2 separate regions of the Homo sapiens genome follow, and region 2 is linked to region 1. Evidence: fine-mapped expression QTL. Tissue or cell type: breast. Region 1 holds a variant in brackets; the other region holds the start of a gene. All regions are shown on one strand. Distances are between the middles of the regions.

What was found. PIP is the estimated chance that this variant, and not a neighbour inherited with it, causes the effect.
Region 2: LINC01993 starts here. The variant in region 1 is fine-mapped to the expression of LINC01993 in breast (GTEx, PIP 0.97).

The regions. Positions count from the first base shown.
Region 1 is chr17:78,243,771-78,251,488 of GRCh38, reverse strand. LOC105371910 (a long non-coding RNA gene) reads right to left here and starts at 3,173. Exons shown (of 2, transcript NR_164160.1): 1 at 2,724-3,173; 2 at 1-267. It also overlaps the pseudogene THA1P. RefSeq lists enhancers at 550-599, 781-1,426 and a silencer at 4,814-5,014. The variant T/C (reference allele first, on the strand shown) is at 3,081.
Region 2 is chr17:78,275,451-78,280,450 of GRCh38, reverse strand. It overlaps LINC01993 (long intergenic non-protein coding RNA 1993), which reads left to right and starts at 1,959. Exons shown (of 7, transcript NR_073178.1): 1 at 1,959-2,007. RefSeq lists enhancers at 1,426-2,259, 2,260-3,093, 3,655-3,704, 3,935-4,204.

The sequences.
Region 1 (7,718 bases):
CTTAGGGCTCAGCCTAGCCACGCTGAGCAGGGCCACATGCCTCCAGACTCAATGCCAAGACCTGCCCTCCTTCTGTCTCAGTGATGTGTCACTGCTGGCGCCGGGGCTCCCAGCTCCTCCTTGGGCAGGAGTGCCACCTCCACGTCTATGAGCAGGGTGGGGTGGCTCAGGTAAGGAGCAGGCATTGCTCACCTGGGGCCCTGGGCATCCTCCAGCCAGCACAGGCTGCTCAGGGGCAAACCCCCTTCCCAGGCACCAGGCTGGGACCTGCGGAGGGGAGAAAGGGACAGCCATGGAGAAGCTGGCTGGGATGGCAGCCTCTCCAGGGGAGGAAGGAAGGAGAGCAGAGCCCCAGATTTGCCACGTGGGGGCGGCAGCGGCTGGGGCTGGCCCCAGGCTTGCCGGGCAGACACCTGGGCGGTGCTTGGTGCCTGGTGCCCTCTAGTGGACACTCGGAGCACTCCCGCGCTCCCGACGGGAGCCAGACAGCAGCATCTGAAGAGTTAATAGGGGAGGGGCCCAGTGCCCCCCAGCTGGGACGTCTGTCTAGATGCACAGAACAGAGGAAAGGCTCCAAGGCCCAGGCCTCGGGGGAGCAGACACAGGACTCAGGGTCTGGCTCCTTACTCCAGAGGAGCCCCCCACTCCGCCAAGAGGTGCCCCTGGACCCCTCAGCCCTCATCCTCTTCCTGACCCACAGAGGGCTGGAGTGCACTCCCACTCCCTCCCAGAGCTGCCCCACTGCACTCTGGACTGGCTGAGCTGGAGAGGATGATCACGCGGGGCCTCCAGAGTCCCTACCACCAGGTCTGCGAGCTCATTTGCCTGGAGAACTCACACAGCATCTCGGGGGTCCGGATCCTCCCCATCAACTACCTACGCCAGGTAGGCCCAGCCCCACCACTGTGTGCCCCCCACCAGCCTGATCCTGGCTTCCTGTGCCCCTGGCCCATCCTGGGGTTCAGTCCCCTCTGATTTATGCCATGGGCACCCATCAGCGGCCAGACCTGTCACAGGAAGGACACATGTGTGGTCCTAGGCTGAGACACAAAGGGAATTATTACCCCAGGTCAGGGCCCCTAGTCCCTGCACCAGCCCAACAGCAGAGATGCCCCCACCCCCAAGTCCCCAGAGCTGAGTCCCAGAGCAGCACCAGGACCTGCTGCCCTGGCGCAGAAACGTGTGCCCCATGAGGCTGCAGGAACAAGCTCGTGTGAGTGCCCTCCACCTGGTCCTTGCCACCCACGTGCGAGGTGAGGAGGCCGCAGTGTCTGAGCTCTGCTGTTTACCAGACACTAGTTAGGCAGCAGCCTAACTCTCCAAGCCTTGCGTTCCTTGCCTGTGAAATGGGAGCAGCGGCGTCTCCCTCGAGTTGTTGTGCAGCCTAAATGAGGTGACACACATTTACCCTTGGCCCACGGTCGTTTGGCCCATGCTCAGTGTGCGACAAAGCTGGGTTAAATGTGCACCCCCAGATCCTCCCAGAGCCCAGCATGGAGGCTTAGGCAGCACAGCCTGACTGCTTGGGTCCCAGATCACCAGAGCCAGTCACCAGCCAGGTCTCCTGATCCCTCCTGATTCCTCAGGCAGCTAAGCCCAGGACCCTCCTCCCTCTATGCCTCCCTCAGGCCTGGCCCCTCTGACTCTGCCTGCACCTCACCCCCAGGTGCACCTCCTGGCCCAGACCTATGGGGCCTGGGTCCACCTGGACAGGGCCCAGCTGATGAACGTGGTGCTGGCCCTGCATGTCCCGCCCACCTACATTGTGGAGCACTGTGACTCTGTGTCTTTCTGCCTCTCCAAGGTGGGAAAGCCCTGGGCTGGCCTCCCACAGACAGGTGGGGTGGGGCGCCCCAGCAGGAGGCAGGGTTGGATTCCTGAGCTCCATCCCTGGCAGCTGGCCCCAGGTTCCCCTTTAACACCTCTGCAGATGGGGCTACGCATCTGTCCCCACCCTGGCCCAAGGACAGGGATGTGAGCTGGCAGGAGTCTCTCCTCTCCACCTCCCAGGGCCTGGGCGCCCCAGTGGGGTCCCTGGCTGGGAGGCCCAAGGACTTCATTGAAGAAGCCTGGCGCCTCCAAAAAGCCCTGGGTGGAAGCATGCACCAGGTGGGGATGCTGGCTGCGGTGGCCCTGGTGGGACTGGTTGACACAAAGCAGGCACTGTGGCAAGACCATGGGAACGCCCAGAGATTCACCCAAGGTGCCTGGACAGGACGCCCCACCCTCGCTTCCCTGTGCTTCCTCTGACTTGGCCTGAGCTGTGCCGTCGGGGGTCCCCCAGCAGGCCTGCAGGCTTCTGGATCCTGGGACTCAGGGTGGCCATTGAGTCACTAGGGCGGGACCCAGGGCACCAGCTGCTTCAGCAGACCCTACTCAGCGCAGAGTCCAGCCTGGGGAAGCCCTCGGTGGACGGCCAGGATTGTGATGCTCTGCAGAGTCTGGCAGAGCCTCTAACCTGGGTCTTCCATCTGCTCACTGAGTCCTCCAACAATCCCATGATGTCCCTACTTCACAATGAGGAAACAGAGGCCCAGAGAGGTCAATAGGTTTGTCTGAGATCACATAGCTAAACGCAGCAGAGCCCAGTCTGTGTGACTGCAAAGGCCAAGTCAGGACACAGGGCCCTTCCTTCTCCTACCGTGACCGAACTGCCCCCTGCCTCCCGGGTGACCTTGCTGGCAATGGGGTCAGGGTCAGGGCCTGGGGTCACCTCTGCTCACCTCAGGACCTGGCCCAGGACTCCAGGAGCTGGTGTTGTCCGTCTGCTCAGTTGATCCCACCTTCGTGGAGACGAACATGGTGGTGGTGAGCATGGCTGGGTTGCGGGCCGTGAGTGCTGATGAGCTGGCCCACACTGGCCACGTGGCGTGCGTGCCACTGTTCCTATGGACAGAGCAGTCCGTGCTTCCGTGTGGCACCGCGACGTCTCGGTGTAGGACACTGAACTGGTGCTGAGGAAGTGGGAGTTTGTGCTGAGGCCGTTGGAGTCCTGAGGACGGAGTGACCGGGACCCTGTGCCCGGGCTGGGGTGGAAGCAGGGAGTGGAGGTGTTCCCAGCAAGCAGGCAGCAGAGGAGG[T/C]GTTACCTGCTCCTGGGGCTCTTTGGTCCCCTTCACCCCCACAACACTCAGGGTTAGGACCTCCCCCATGCTTGTCAGCACACACTGAATTCCTCCAGTGTCTGGGACAGGGTGTAGGGACAGGAAGGACACCCTTCCAGCTCCCGTCACCAGAGCTCGGGAGGCAGCGGGGCAGGCCTTCGCTCTAGGTCAGAGAGGAGCCCTTTCTTCAGGGCCACGTGGCCAGTTACAGCTTCCTGAGTTCAGGAAGGGAAACGTCAGAAGGAAGCAGAAAGGGACATGGGAACTTGATGGTCAGGGCTTTAACTGCCGTGGTGAGGGATTTCCATTTTATCTTGTGGTCCTCTAATACGTATTTTCCTTTTTAGAAAATAAATTACTCAGGGCCGGGCATGGTGGCTCACGCCTGTAATCCCAGCACTTTGGGAGGCCGAGGTGGGTGGATCACTTGAGGTCAGGAGTTCGAGACCAGCCTGGCCAACATGGTGAAACCCCATCTCTACTAAAAATACAAAAATTAGCCAGGTGTGGTGGTGCGTACCCGTAGTCCCAGCTACTCGGGAGGCAGAGGTGAGAGAATCGCTTGAACTGGGGAGGTGGGGGTTGCAGTGAGCCGAGATTACGCCACTGCACTCCGGCCTGGGTAACAGAGCCAGACTCCGTCTCAAAAAAAAAAAAAAGGAAAAGAAATTACTCTGCTTAACAAAATAATATGTCTGTATTGTAGATGATGTGGGAGTAAATCTTACTTTTAGCAACTCTTAGGGTAGTTCAGGCAGACTCAGTCAAAAAAAAAAAAATGAAGCCAGGCGTGGTGGGGTGTGCATCTGTGGTCCCAGCTACGTGGGAGCCTGGGGTAGGAGGATCATTTAAGTCCAGGAGGTGGAGTCTGCAGTGAGCCGAGATCACACCACTGCATTCCAGCCTGGGCGACAGAGGGAGACCCTGTCTCAACAAATAAACAAACAAACAATCTGATAGTACTGAAGAGCCTGCAAGGCAGTCATGAATTGTGAGGTCAAGATCTGGGAGAAGAGGGAACCTAGAGAGGTGAGCCTGGCATTTGGGACACTTTTCCTCGACGCGTCTGCTCGGGAGCTGAGGAACTGAGCAGAACTTTTCACAGGCACACAGGGCTGAGGGCAGAAGCTGAAGTTCAAGGCCTGCTGAAAGACCCTGGTAAGAGTCCCTCAAGCAAGACTCTGTCTCAAAAAACAAACAAACAAACAAAAAAACCCTCAAGCTTTGGGTTGAGTCCCTGAGGGGCCACCCACTAGGAGTAAGGGCAATTGGAAGTAGACTGACCATCGTGAGAAGTGAAGCCAGCTGTGAAGCACTGTGATCCCTGATTACGGCAATCTGGGGTGGTGGGTGCCTCTGGCCTAGCTGCCTGCCAGAAGTAAAGATCCGTCTTCTCTGGAGGAAGGTGACGTCTCCCAGAGCCTCCAATTTCCTCTACAGTTATTCATGTGGGATGCCCCCACTCAATCAGAAATAACCAGGTATAGAATGGGACAAGATGTGATTGAAAATGAGAAAAAAATGGACAAAAGAGGCCAGGCGCAGTGGCTCATGCCTCTAATCCCAGCACTTTGGGAGGCAGAGGCGGGCAGATCACTTGAGGTCAGGAGTTTGAGACCAGCCTGGCCAACATGGTGAAACCCCATCTCTACTAAAAATCCAAAAAAAAATTTAGCTGGTCATAGTGGTGTGGGCCTGTAATCCCAGCTATTCGGGAGGCTGAGGCAAGCGAATCATTTGAACCCAGGAGGTGGAGGTTGCAGTGAGCCAAGATCACACTGTTGTACTCCAGCCTGTGTGACACAGCAAGACTCTGTCTCCAAAAAAAAAAAAAAAGAAACAGACCCTTAGGTGACCCAGATAACAAAGTGGCTTGTGCCTGTAGTCCCAGCTACCCAGGAGGCTGAGGTGGGAGGATCACTTGAGCCCAGGAGTTCAAGGCTGCAGTGAACCGTGATCATGCCACTGCACTCCAACCTGGGTGACAGAGCGAGACCCATCTCTAAAAAAATAAATAGCTTGAGTGTGGTGGCTCATGCCTACAATCCCAGCACTTTGGGAGGCCGAGGTGGGTGGATCACTTGAGATCAGGAGTTCGAGACCAGCCTAGCAAACATGGTGAAACTCCATCTCTACTAAAAATACAAAAATTAGCTGGGCATGGTGGCACACACCTGTAATCCCAGCTACTCTGGAGGCTGAGGCAGGAGAATCGCTTGAACCCGGGAGGCAGAGGTTGCAGTTAGCCAAGATTGCGCCACTGCACTCCAGCCTGGGTGACGGTGAGACTCCGTCTCAAAATAAATAAATAAATTAATTAATTAAATTAAATATTCTAGGCTGGGTGTGGTGGCTCATGCTTGTAATCCCAGCATTTTGGGAGTCCGAGGCAGGCAGATTGCTTGAACCCAGGAGTTTGAAACCAGCCTGGGCAACATGGTAAAACCCTGTTTCTACTTAAAAGTACAAAAATTAGCCAGATGTGGCACCTGTAGACCCAGCTACATGGGGGACTGAGGTGGGAGGATTGCTTGAGCCTCCCAGGAGGTGGAGGTTGCAGTGAGCTAAGATTGTGCCACTGCATTCCAGCCTGGGTGACACAGAGAGACCCCCATCTCAAAAAAATAAAAAATAAAATATTCAAGGAATTATAAGTCAAGATAAAAAAAATTTGGCAGGAATCTTGGAACTATAAGAAGGCCACATGGAAATTCTAGAACTGAAAAATATGATAACTTAAGAACTCAGTAGATAGGTTGAATAGTAGATGAGACACAGCTGGAGAGAGAATTAGTGAAGAGGGAGATAAATCAAGAGAAAATATCCAGATAAACAAAAGATAGTTCTTTGAAAAGAGTAATAAAATTGATAAACCTCTAATGAGACTGATCAAGAACAAGAGAAAGGAAGTATAAATAACTTGTGATAATGGCTGGGCACGGTGGCTCATGCCTATAATCCCAGCACTTTGGGAGGCCGAGGAGGGCAGATCACCTGAGGTCAGGAGTTCAAGACCAGCCTGACCAACATGGAGAAACTCTGTCTCTACTAAAAATGCAAAATTAGCCAGGCATGATGGCATGTGCCTGTAATCCCAGCTACTCAGGAGGCTGAGGCAGGAGAATCACTTGAACCCGGGAGGTGGAGGTTGCAGTGAGCTGAGATCGTGCCATTGCACTCCAGCCTGGGCAACAAGGGCAAAACTCCATCTCAAAAAATAAATAAATAAATAAATAAATAAATAAATAACTTGTGATAATATTAAAAAGAATAAAGAGGCTGGGCATGGTGGCTCATGCCTGTAATCCCAGCACTTTGGCAGGCTTAGGCAGGTGGATCACCTGAGGTCAGGAGTTTGAGACCAGCCTGGCCAATATAGCAAACCCCATCTCTACTAAAAATACAAAAAAGTATCCAGGCCTGGTGGTGCGTGCCTGTAATCCCAGCTACTCAGGGGGCTGAAGCAGAAGAAGTGCTTGAACCCAGGAGGCAGAGGTTGCAGTGAGCCGAGATCCCGCCACTGCACTTCAGCCTGGGCAAGAGAGTGAGACTCCATCTCAAAAAAAAAAAAAAAAAAAGAAGAAGAAGAAGAAAATAAAAATTACCTGTATTTTTATCATCTAAGAATAACTATTAATATTTTTGTCTATTTCATTCTGGATATGTATATATGTATATAAATCTCTGCGTGTGTGTGTGTGTGTGTGTGTGTGTGTGTGTGTGTGTGTGTGTATTAAAGAGGGGAGGTATACAGTCAGATCAGTGCTTTAGAAAGCCCTTAATAGGAATCCCAGAAGGAGGATTGTTTAGAATGGTAAAGTAGAGACTTTAGCTTAAGATTGTTAACTTTGAGACCCCAAGAAGAGGTGGTTAAGAAGCTGCCAGGAATGTAAGCACAGAGCTCAGGAGGGGGCCTGGACTAGAGGAAGAGCTATGAGAAACCACAGCATGGGCTGGGTGTGGTGGGTCATGCCTATAATCCCAGCACTTAGGGAGGCTGAGGTGGGTGGATCACCTGAGATCAGGAATTCAAGACCAGCCTGACCAACATGGAGAAACCCCATCTCTACTAAAAATACAAAATTAGCCGGGCGTGGTGGCACATACCTGTAATCCCAGCTACTCGGGAGGCTGAGGCAGGAGAATCACTTGAACCTGGGAGGCAGAGGTTGCAGTGACCTGAGATCACACCATTGCACTCCAGCCTGGGCACCAGAGAAGAGTGAAACTCCGTCTCAAGAAAGAAATGAAAGAAAGAAAAGGAAGGAAGGGAGGGAGGGAGGGGACGGTGGAAATCTTGGACTGCAGTGAGTGTAAGGGGAGAAGAGTCCACGTGGCAGGCAAAGGGGAGTTTCCCTCTGTCCCTCCATCTCTTAGAAGAATCCAGATCCATACTGTGGAAGATCCGTATACAGGAGTTCCCAGGGCCCCAGAACTGCTGTCCTGTGCTGGAGAAGGTGGTAACTCAGAGAATCAAAAGAAAGCCAGCAACTCGCATGCCTGTAATCCCAGCATTTTGGGAGGCCGAGGCAGGTGGATCACCTGAGGTCAGGAGTTCAAGACCAGCCTGGCCAACATGGAGAAACCCCCATCTGTACTAAAAGCACAAAAATCAGC
Region 2 (5,000 bases), 30 kb before region 1:
AGGGCATGGCAGGTTCTGGACCCCTCTGGATTACTGGGTAATCACGTCCGGGGAGTCCTGTGCTATGCAGTTACAGTAAATTTTGTGAGCCTTTTCTCCTATGAATCTGCCTTTTGTCCGCTGATTTTTCGGCGAAGCTTCAGAGGGCAAAGGGCAGCTTTCTCTTCCTAACCCAGAATCCGACCACTTCTCAGCCCTTCCACTGCCACCCCTGGCCGCAGCCCCTGGCATCTCCTGCCCGGGGAACTTGGTTCCCTCCGTGCTCTGCCTGTTTCCACCACAACCTCCCCAGGGCACCTGGGTTGATGTTGCAGGGCCCCCTCCCACTACATGGCCCCTGCACAGACCATACTCTTCCCAAGGCCCAGGGCTCCCTGTGCCTGGCTCCAGCCTCCTTATGGTTTCTGGAACATACACCGGTGTGTCCTCCTTGCTCATCCTGACTTGTCACCTGTATCTTTCTCTCCCTACTGGAGCCCTGCAAAGCAGGCATTTTCATCTGCTGGGATATCCCCAGCCCCTGGAACAGCCCAGGCTCATAATAGACACCGAGTTTGCAGAATAAGTGAATGAATGGGAGACTGAAGGAGTGAGCTTGCTTGTACACAACCACCTCTCAGAACACACATGCATCTGTCTGCACCGGTCTGTCATTTTGAATTCTGGGGCAGGGAGGAGTGCCATTGATTTGCTTCATTCATTCGCCTGGTGGTGTGTGTCCCTCCCTTTTGACTATAGCTTACCTGGCATGCACCTTCTTCCTCACTGCCCCAAGGCCTGACCTGGAGTCCGGCCTGCCATAGGCGCCCCTGCATTCCTGCTGATGACCAGAGGGCTTCAGTGGTCTTGCCTGGAGAGAGTGACCAGTTGTGGTTGGGTCTCATTTGCATGTGCTTTGCATAATGCTTTGCATAACCTCCTACAAGCCACATTGAGCAGGGAAGGTGGGGTGCAGAGAGGACTGGCCCTGGGGCCCCCTGAGAGCTGACCCCTGCAGCAGATGTTCTGGGGTTTGGGGCTCCTTGGGGACCAGCTCCACCTGGTGCCAGTCTCCCCAGGCCAGGTTAGGGGTGCAGATCTGGACACAGTGAGGGTGAGGGTACAGGCTTCCCTCGCCAGACGCGGCTTCTCCCTTCCTCTCCCTGGGAAAGGGGAGGCCTCACTGCAAGCCCCAGGAACCTGCCCCAAGGCCCTCCGAAGTTCAGGCCCTGCCTCCCTGCACTGAAGAGGCTGGGGTTGGGGGGCAAGTGTCACCCACGCCTCAGAGTGAGCCCTAGATCTGAGGAGAGACAAGATGGGGAGGAGGGGAAGGGGGTCAGCTCAGAGGGCAGCCCTGCCCACTCTGCCATGTCCCAGCTTTCAGACGTGGCTGAGAGGACATGAGATGCCCCGCTCCCCGGAGCGGGTCACAGAACTCGGGGTAAGTTTCTGGTCTGCCTACCTGGCAGATGCCCCTAGAGAGTGGCCTCCCCAACAGCACCGACCACCCCAGGGCAGGTGGGGAGCAGCGTCCCCCACCCCATGACCCCGGCCAGCCTGGCCACCCTGCTGGGCCACATGGTGCCACAGGTCAGCAGGGGTCTTCAGGCCATGTGAGGAAGGTGTCTGGGCTGGTGGCCAGGCTGGGTGGGAGGGGTGGGGGCAGGTGGAGCTGGGTGGGTGATTGGGTGACCTCGACCCCTCAGCAGGCTGCACCAACCCTGGCTGGAGCTGCCACTGGCCTCAGCTTCCCTTCTCAGCAACTGTGACCTCAAGCAGCTGCTGCACCTGTTGGGTGTGGGTGAGCCCGGCTCTTCTTTCCCTTCCAGGGGAGGAGTCAGCCCAGGAGTCAACTACGAGGTCGGGGAGGGGATTAAGGAGCTGAGAACAGGAGACAGCAGAGGGGACAGGCTGTCTTCAAGCACAGCTGGCACCTGGGGAAAGCCGCCTCCTCCCTCCCACTGCCCCCACCCCCGCTTGTTACTGGAAATGAGGAGAGCCTCCCAGGTCCCAGCAGAGCTGCTGCTGGTAAGTCCCTTCCCCAGCGGCCCCTCCACCCCTCACAGGCCCAGCTGTGCCAGCCCAGCCTGGGCCCTACTCCCGGCTCCTGCTTTAGGTGGTCTCCTGTGGCCTGAGGCCCTGGGGGTGGGCAGGGGTAGGCACCCAGGCCCAGAGGCTCTGCGCCTGTCTCCAGGCTTCCCTGCTGCCTGGGCTCTGTGGTGGGAGGCGGGGTTGCAGGTGAGGGGAGTCCTCCGTAATCAACCCCGGTTTATAGGAATTGGGGCCCCAGTGCCCAGACTCATGGGCCTCCAGGGGAGCAGGTGGGAGGCTCTGCCCAGCCCACCTCCCTCTGAGTATGGATCTGAGGTCACACACACCTGGCTGGAAGTGACTTATCCTGTGAACCTCAGCGTCCTTACCTGTAAAAGGTAACAAAATTCTCTCTTCCTCCAAGTGGCTGAGAAAGGTAGAAAAACAGAGTAAGAGCAGCTGGTCCCAGCCCCGTGAGCACCGGCCGGGACCCCTCGGGTGGGATCCCATCGTACCATCTCTGCCCATGATCCAAGGAGACCATTTCAGAGAGGCTGAACAACATGCCGGGCTCAGGGCACGGGGCAGGCTTTAGTTTTGCCACAGCCAGCCGGCTGGTGAGCAGGGGCGGGGCAGCCGTGGGCCTGGAGAGTGGGGGCGACTTCTTCCTACCCCCTCCCAGAAGGAGAAAGCCCACATTTTTAGGTACCACAGCAGCCCTTTTGGGCAACAGGCTTCCCCTTTTTTTTTTTTTTTGGAGACAGAGTCTTGCCCTGTCGCCCAGGCTGGAGTGCAGTGGTGTGATCTCGGCTGACTGCAACCTCCGCCTCCCAGGTTCAAGCAATTCTCCTGCCTCAGTCTCCCGAGTAGATGGGATTACGCCCACCACCATGCCCGGCTAATTTTTGTATTTTTAGTAGAGACGACAGGGTTCCACCATGTTGGCCAGACTGGTCTGGAACTCCTGACCTCAGATGATCCACCCACCTTGGCCTCCCAAAGTGCTGGGATTACAGGTGTGAGCCACTGTACCCGACCCTCTTTTTTTAAAAAAACCTTTTAAGTTCAGGGGTCCACGTGCAGGTTTGTTATATAGGTAAGCCCGTGACATTGGGGTTTGTTGTACAGATTATTTCAGCACGCAGGTACTAAGTCTAGTACGCATTAGTTATTTTTCCTGATCCTCTTCCTCCTCCCAGCCTCCACCCTCTGATAGGATCCAGGGTCGGCTGGTCTATTCTATGCAGATTCTTAGAAATATCAACTGAGACCGGGTGCGGTGGCTCATTCCTGTAATCCCAGCACTTTGGGAGGCCGAGGTGGGCGGATCACCTGAGGTCAGGAGTTTGAGACCAGCCTGGCCAACATGGCAAAACCCCGTCTCTACTAAAAATAACAAAATTAGCTGGGCATGGTGGCACCTGTAATCCCAGCTACTCAGGAGGCTGAGGCAGGAGAATTGCTTGAACCTGGGAGGCGGAGGTTGCAGTGAGCCGAGATCGCACCACTGCACTCCAGCCTGGGTGACAGAGCAAGACTCCATCTCAAAAAAAAAAAAAAAAAAAAAAAGATAAATACCCCTGATGGAATGCAAGGGGAAAGTTCCGCCCTTAGCCCATCAATCCTGGCAGGTGCTCCACCCTCCCACCTGGGGACCCAGGTGGCAACCGGCAGAGCGAGCTCAGAAACTCCACGTCAAGGTAGCAAAGCAGCATCCGCCTGGGTCCCCTAAGGGAGTAGGGCTGCATAGACCGGGTGCACCCGCCCTGGGCTGTTACAGAAGGAGAAATAAACTTCTCCACAAGCCACAGCTGCTATTGTTGGCTACCGTGCTGCAGCTGCTGAGCTGGTATGTGTCTTTGTGTGACTGGCTGATTTCACTTAGTGTGATGTCTCCAAGGTTCATCCACATGATAGCATAGGTCAGAATTTCCTTCCTTTGTTAAGGCTGAATAATATTCCACAGTATGGATAGACCATAGTTTGTTTATCCATTCATGTATCCATGGACACTAGGGTTGCTTCTATCTTTTGGCTATTGCAAATGAATAATGCTGCTATGAACGCGGGTGAACATATCTCTTTGAGTTCTGCAGCTGCTGAGCCTACCTGAACTAGCGCCAGTTACAAGAAACAGAAACTCACCTCAAACCAGCCGAAGTCAAATGGAGCCTGAAATGCAAACTAAAACCACAAGACGACGCCACTCAATACCTATTAGGACGGCTACTATTTTTTTTAAAAAAAAAACAACAGAAAATAACAAGTGTTGGTGAAGATGTGGAGAAATTGGAATCCTGTGCACTCAATTTTTTTTTTTGAGGTGGAGTCTCACTGTCATCCAGGCTGGAGTGCAGTGGCACTATCTCGGCCCACCACAACCTCCACCTCCTGGATTCAAGCGATTCTCGTGCCTCAGCCTCCTGAGTAGCTGGGATTACAGGCATGCTTCACCATGGCCCGACTAATTTTTATATTTTTAGTAGAGACGGGGTTTCACCATGTTGGCCAGGCCGGTCTCAAACTCCTGACCTCAAGTGATCCACCCGCCATGGCCTCCCAAAGTGCTGGGATTACAGGTGTGAGCCACAGCGCTTGGCCCTGTGCACTCAATTTTGGTGGGAATGGAAAATGGTACAATTGCTGTGGAAAACAGTGTGGTGAGATGCTCCAAAAATTAAACATAGAATTAGCGTATAACCCAGCACTTCCACTCCTGTATCTATCCCCAAAAGAATTAAAAGCAGAGACTCAGAGATATGTTCACCCACGTTCATAGCAGCATTATTCATTTGCAATAGCCAGAAGATAGAAGCAACCCTAGTATCCATGGATGCATGAATGGATAAACAAACTATGGTCTATCCATACGGTGGAATATTATTCAGCCTTAAAAAGGAAGGAAATTCTGACCTATGCTATCACGTGGATGCACCTTGAAGACATCACACTAAATGAAATCAGCCAGTCACACAAAGACACATACCGTG